2 separate regions of the Homo sapiens genome follow, and region 2 is linked to region 1. A link means that fine-mapping ties the variant in region 1 to the expression of a gene that starts in the linked region. Tissue or cell type: skeletal muscle. Region 1 holds a variant in brackets; the other region holds the start of a gene. All regions are shown on one strand. Distances are from middle to middle.

What was found. PIP is the estimated chance that this variant, and not a neighbour inherited with it, causes the effect.
Region 2: SLC9A8 starts here. The variant in region 1 is fine-mapped to the expression of SLC9A8 in skeletal muscle (FUSION, PIP 0.95).

Annotation. Positions count from the first base shown.
Region 1 is chr20:50,711,074-50,713,828 of GRCh38, reverse strand. No RefSeq gene overlaps it. Among named protein-coding and RNA genes, the nearest start is that of PARD6B, 19 kb to the left of the region's middle. RefSeq lists a cis regulatory region at 2,445-2,633. The variant G/A (reference allele first, on the strand shown) is at 1,586.
Region 2 is chr20:49,811,876-49,814,375 of GRCh38, reverse strand. It overlaps SLC9A8 (solute carrier family 9 member A8), which reads right to left and starts at 1,548. Exons shown (of 16, transcript NM_015266.3): 1 at 1,428-1,548. The coding sequence starts at 1,453. RefSeq lists a silencer at 1,300-1,579 and an enhancer at 1,730-1,869.

The sequences.
Region 1 (2,755 bases):
AGGAGCGTTAGTAAGAAACTCCAAAGGAGCTGGTGTATTCCTAGAATTTTGATTTAATTGAGGTCAGAGTCATTTTACTCATCACTGCTGCACAGTCTTTAGGGTGATATGGAAAGATAATGTTTCTGTGGGTTTGGAGGCTATTTAAGGACAAGAAGTGGCCATGTACCAAAATTCCATGGACACTCCCTACACTTTAATCCCTCTCTGAACTCTTTGTGTCCTAAGTATTATCATTTGTCTTCCACTGCTCTATCTCCCATGTAATCCATCTCTGATAACAGCACCACTATCTCTCCAGTCATCCAGGACTCTAACTTTATTTTGAACCCTCTTTCTCCGTCACTGTCCATATTCAAGTGGCTGCCTGATTCTAAACCTCTAACACAGGCAGGCGCAGTGGCTCATGCCTGTAATCCTGGCACTTTGAGAGGCTGAGGCAGGCGGATAGTTTGAGACCAGCCTGGGCAACATGGCGAAACCCTGTCTCTACAAAAAATACAAAAATTAACCAGCATGGTGGTGGATGCCTGCAGTCCCAGCTACTTGGGAGGCTGAGGCAGGAGGATCTCTTGAGCCCAGGGGGTGGAGGCTGCAATGAGCTATGATCATGCCACTGCACTCTAGCCTGGGCGATAGAGTGAGACCATGTCTCAAAACAACAAAACAAAGCAAAACAAAAAAACAACCTCTAACATGCTGGTCTTCCCCTGTTAGCATGTAACAGCATCCCCAGGTCAGACACTCATCACCTCCTGCCAGAACTAAAAGCCACATCCAGAGGAGTTACAGGAGGCCTCTGCTGAGGGCTACAGGGGCAGCAACCTGCCCTGCCCCCTCCCTTCCCCCTCCCTTAGCATAGTACTCAGTTCTTTCCAAGGTCTCCAGGCTCTGGCCCCAACCCCCCACCTTTGGTTTCCACAGCATTTCCCAAGAGGTGAAATGCTGTGCTTAGGGTCCCACAGTAAATGACAGAGGGCAGGTCTTTTGGACGTAAATCCAGTTCTCTTTCCGCTCTCCTCCACTCTCAGCACACCAAAGGAGGTCCAGAGATTGGTGACTAAATTGATCACGTTCAGATCCCCCATCTGTGGAGTGAAGTTTTGTTTTTTTTTTAGAGACCGGGTCTCACTAGTTGCCCTGGCTGGAGTGCAATGGCATGATCATGGCTTACTGCAACCTCAACTTCCCAGGCTTAAACGATCCTCCCACCTCAACTTGCAAGGTAGTTTGGACTATAGGCACATGCCACCATGCCTGGCTAATTTTTAAATTTTTTTTGTAGAGATACTATCTTGCTATGTTGCCCATGCTGGTCTTCAACTCTTGGATTCAAACGATCCTCCCACATCAGCCTCCCAAAGTGCTGGGATTACAAGCGTGAGCCATAGTGCCCAGCCAAGGAGTGAAGCTGTGATTGGCCCCCACTTCTGAATGCTGAGGACCTCCTTGTCCAAGCACCTCTTCTCTTCTTTGACTTCTTTTCCAGGTGATCTCATCCAGGTCATGGCTTTCAATACCACCTGTGTGCTGGTGGCCTTCACACTGATATTTCTGTCCCCAGCCTCTCCCCTGAACTCCATTC[G/A]TGCATATATAGTTGCCTACTCGGCCCTTCCATTATTTCTGTCTAGTAGGCATCTCACACTTAACATGGTCCACACTGAACTCCCCACCTCCCTCTTCATCAAGAAGCAGATCACAGCTCCATCTTTGCAGTTGTATCTTGCAGATGACTACCATTAGAATTATCCCCAGGCTGGGTGTGGTGGCTCACACCCCATAATCCCAACACTTTGGAAGGAGGATCACTTGAGCTCAAGAGTTCGAGACCAGCCTGGGTAGCATATGGAGGCCCTGTCTCAAAATCAATCAATCAATCAATCAGGCCTGGTGTGGCGGCTCATGCCTGTAATCCTAGCACTTTGGGAGGCCGAGGCAGGCAGATCACTTGAGGTCAGGAGTTTGAAACCGGCCTGGCCAACATGGTGAAACCCCGTCTCTACTGAAAATATAAAAAATTAGCCGGGCATGGTGGCAGGTGCCTGTAATCCCAGCTACCCAGGCAGGATAATCGCTTGAACCCGGGAGGCAGAGGTTGCAGTGAGCCGAGGTCATGCCATTGCACTCCAGCCTGGGCAATAAGAGCGAAACTCCGTCTCAAAAATAAATAAATAAATAAAATAAAATAAATAAAAATAAGTAAATAAATAAATCATAAAAATAATAAAGGAATTATCCCTGACTCCTTCACTTCTCTCAACCCTCAACATCCAGTCCTGTTGGCTTGACCTCCAAAATATACCGAGAATCCAACTATTTCTCACCACGTCCACATCTTCTACCCTGTTCCAAGCCACCACCATCTCACGCTTGGACTATTATAGTAGACTCTTCTCTGGTCTCTCCACATCTACCCTCCCCTCTCCAGTTGATTCTGCACAAGCCAGAAAGGATTCTGGTAAAACCTGTCTGATGGTGTCCCTCATCCGGTCAAAGCTTTTTGAAAGCTTCTTATCGCATTCAGAGTCAATGCTAAATTTACAATAGCCTTCCATCTCCTGTGATCTTTCCTCCTTTATGCAATCTAGCTCCCACACCCTTTCCCTCCTTCAGGTCCTTCGAAGTTGCCTCTGCCACTCCCTCAAGCCCCCAGCTCTCTGCTTCAGGACAGATTCTGGACATATTTACTTGCTTTGTCTGTCTTCCCCGCTAGAACCTAAGTTCCCCGAAGCCCTCTGTGAAAGACATACACTTA
Region 2 (2,500 bases), 900 kb after region 1:
ATTTTCTGAGCACTGCTTTATTCCAGGAACTAGGTAACACACTACCTCTCATTTAATAGGTATAACATGTCTGATTGGGTATGATTACTTTCCGTTTTTTACTCATGCATAACTAAGGCTCAGGGAGGTTGCAAAACTTCACCAACATCTCAGTTAGTGGCAGAATCAAGCTGAAAACCCAAACTTGAAATCGCTGGGCTATATTGCCTCTTTTATTTTGTGCTGCTGAGGCTGTTTAGTGTCTGGGATGGAGCAGCTGCTCAATAAATAACTGATTACATGAAATGACCCCCACATGGCCAAGAAATATATTTGAAAAGTTATCAGGTGAAGGACTCCAGTATCAATGAAGGGGTTCCTTATTCATCTTCACATACTCATTCCACAAACAGTGATAGGGCATCTACAATCTGCAACAGACTCTGCCCTGCAGGTATGGAGATGACTTTTGGACTTGCCCAAAAGTACCTGGAGGACACAGCCCGTCCTTCCCCATCTCCCCTTGTCCAGCTAACCCCCTTCCTCTCTACACACCAGCCATGCTGCCTGTCACTCAAAAGCACTAAACTCTTTCTTGAGCCAGGCCTTTTGAACCTGATGTTATTTCTCCTATCCCTCATTCTGGTCATTCAAGTTTCTGCTGAATGTCACTTTTTCCTGAGTGGACTCCCCAACCTTAACTCTATTTTGCTTCCTTCAGAACACTTAACCCATTCATGCCAGAGGTTGCAATTTTTAGAACTGCAGACGTGAGAAAAATCAGACCTTGGCGATGACCTTGAGCAGTAGGATATAAATAACTCCCACATGCTTAGCGTTCCAATAATGGAACACTAGGCACAAATAACGTTAATTAATCACGATCTGAAACCACCTTGACTAATTATGGTCTTCTTTTCCCACTAGAATGGAAGCTCCCAGAGAGCGGCTCCTGGTCGGCCTCCTTTCCTACCACCTGCCCAGGGCCTGGAATTGAGTAGATGGCTAACAGTTAATGACTAAATGAAACTTAGTGAAGGAGAAAGACATGAAAACTGATCGTTATACAGGAGGCGACTGGCTACGTAGGAGGTGGGTGTGGAGAACCCGGACGACTTCCTGGAGGAGGCGGAAGAGGGCTCAGTAACCATGAGATTACCGAAAACTGGGAAAGTAAATATGGTTTGTATTTTCCGCAAGACAGCTCTCCGGGCCTGCGCTGGGCAGTAGATTCCCAGCTCGAGGGACCGATCTCCAGGGGAAAGCAAGGCCCACCTGGGCCCAGGCCCGCCCATCCCGCCCTCCTCGTAGGCACCGGCTTGGTCAGTCCTGGCCAACCAGCAAAAGAAGCTCCGCCTTCCGGGGCCGGAGGGCGGCCTGAGGCGCTCGCTGTCACCCGCCGGGGCCCAGCCCCGCCGCCTCCGCCGCCCGGGAAAAAGCCCACTCACTCCTCTTCCGCCATCTTCTCCCCCATCCTGCGGAGCTTCCAGGACCACCGAGTTCGGAGCCGCGGGGCTAGCAGGACCCGCTTTTGCTTCCGGCTTCCGCTGGAGGCGCGGGCGGGCGAGCGGGAGGCGGGGCCTCGGCCGCGCGAGGGCGGCCCTCTGTCCCTCCGTCTCAGTGGCCCGAGGGTGGGAGAAAGCGCGTGGGAGGATTGCTTCTTAGTCTCTCCCGGGGCTTTCGGGACGCTTGTCCGGCCTGGGCCACATGACCACCTGGGACCGAGAGATTCCGGCTTTTCCCCATCACAGGGCGGGGACGTTTTGGGGAAACTCCTCTGAGGTCACTGTGACTCACCCTGAGGGCAAGCAAGCACCCTCCACCCAGTGCCCTCGACTTCGCTGTGCTAAAAGAGTTTGAAAAAGGATGCCCAGCCTGCAGCCTAAGCGGAGAGACCCCAGGGGGACACTTCCCCACCCGAGCCTTAGTTTCCTTCGGCTGTGGAGAGGAATAACCGCCTGGACTTGGCAGGACTGTGCAGCATTCCATCTGTAAACATGTGTTGAGTTCAGACTATATGCCTAGCGTTAAAAAGGATGCTGATGATCTAGGGGTGGACCATTCATTAAGGGGTTCATTGATTCACCACATGCTTAGTAGATGCTTCTATGTGCCTAGCAGTGACCGGTGGGGTGGGGATGCAGGGAGGAACAAGGTGAGGTGAGAGGGGTAGGTGAGACCCCCATCGGGAGGACTGGGGCTGAGGACTTTGAACTTTATTGGCCGCTTCTGTTGCTACCTCCCTTCCTGATCCAAGGCACTCTATCTCATCTGGATAATTGCAACGGCTCCATTCAGGGTCTCTGACTCACCCCTGTTCCTTACGGACTTCCACACAGCAGCTTAACTCATCACTCCTCTGCTTAGACCCTCCAATGGCTTCCAATCTCCAGAGAAAAAAAAAACGTGGGGAATGTACAGGACTCAATCCTGCCCCCTTTTCCCCTCTGAAGTGTGTGGGAGGGGGGCATGGGGCTCTATATCTCCCCTCCCACACACTTTGACTTTCCACTATTGTCCC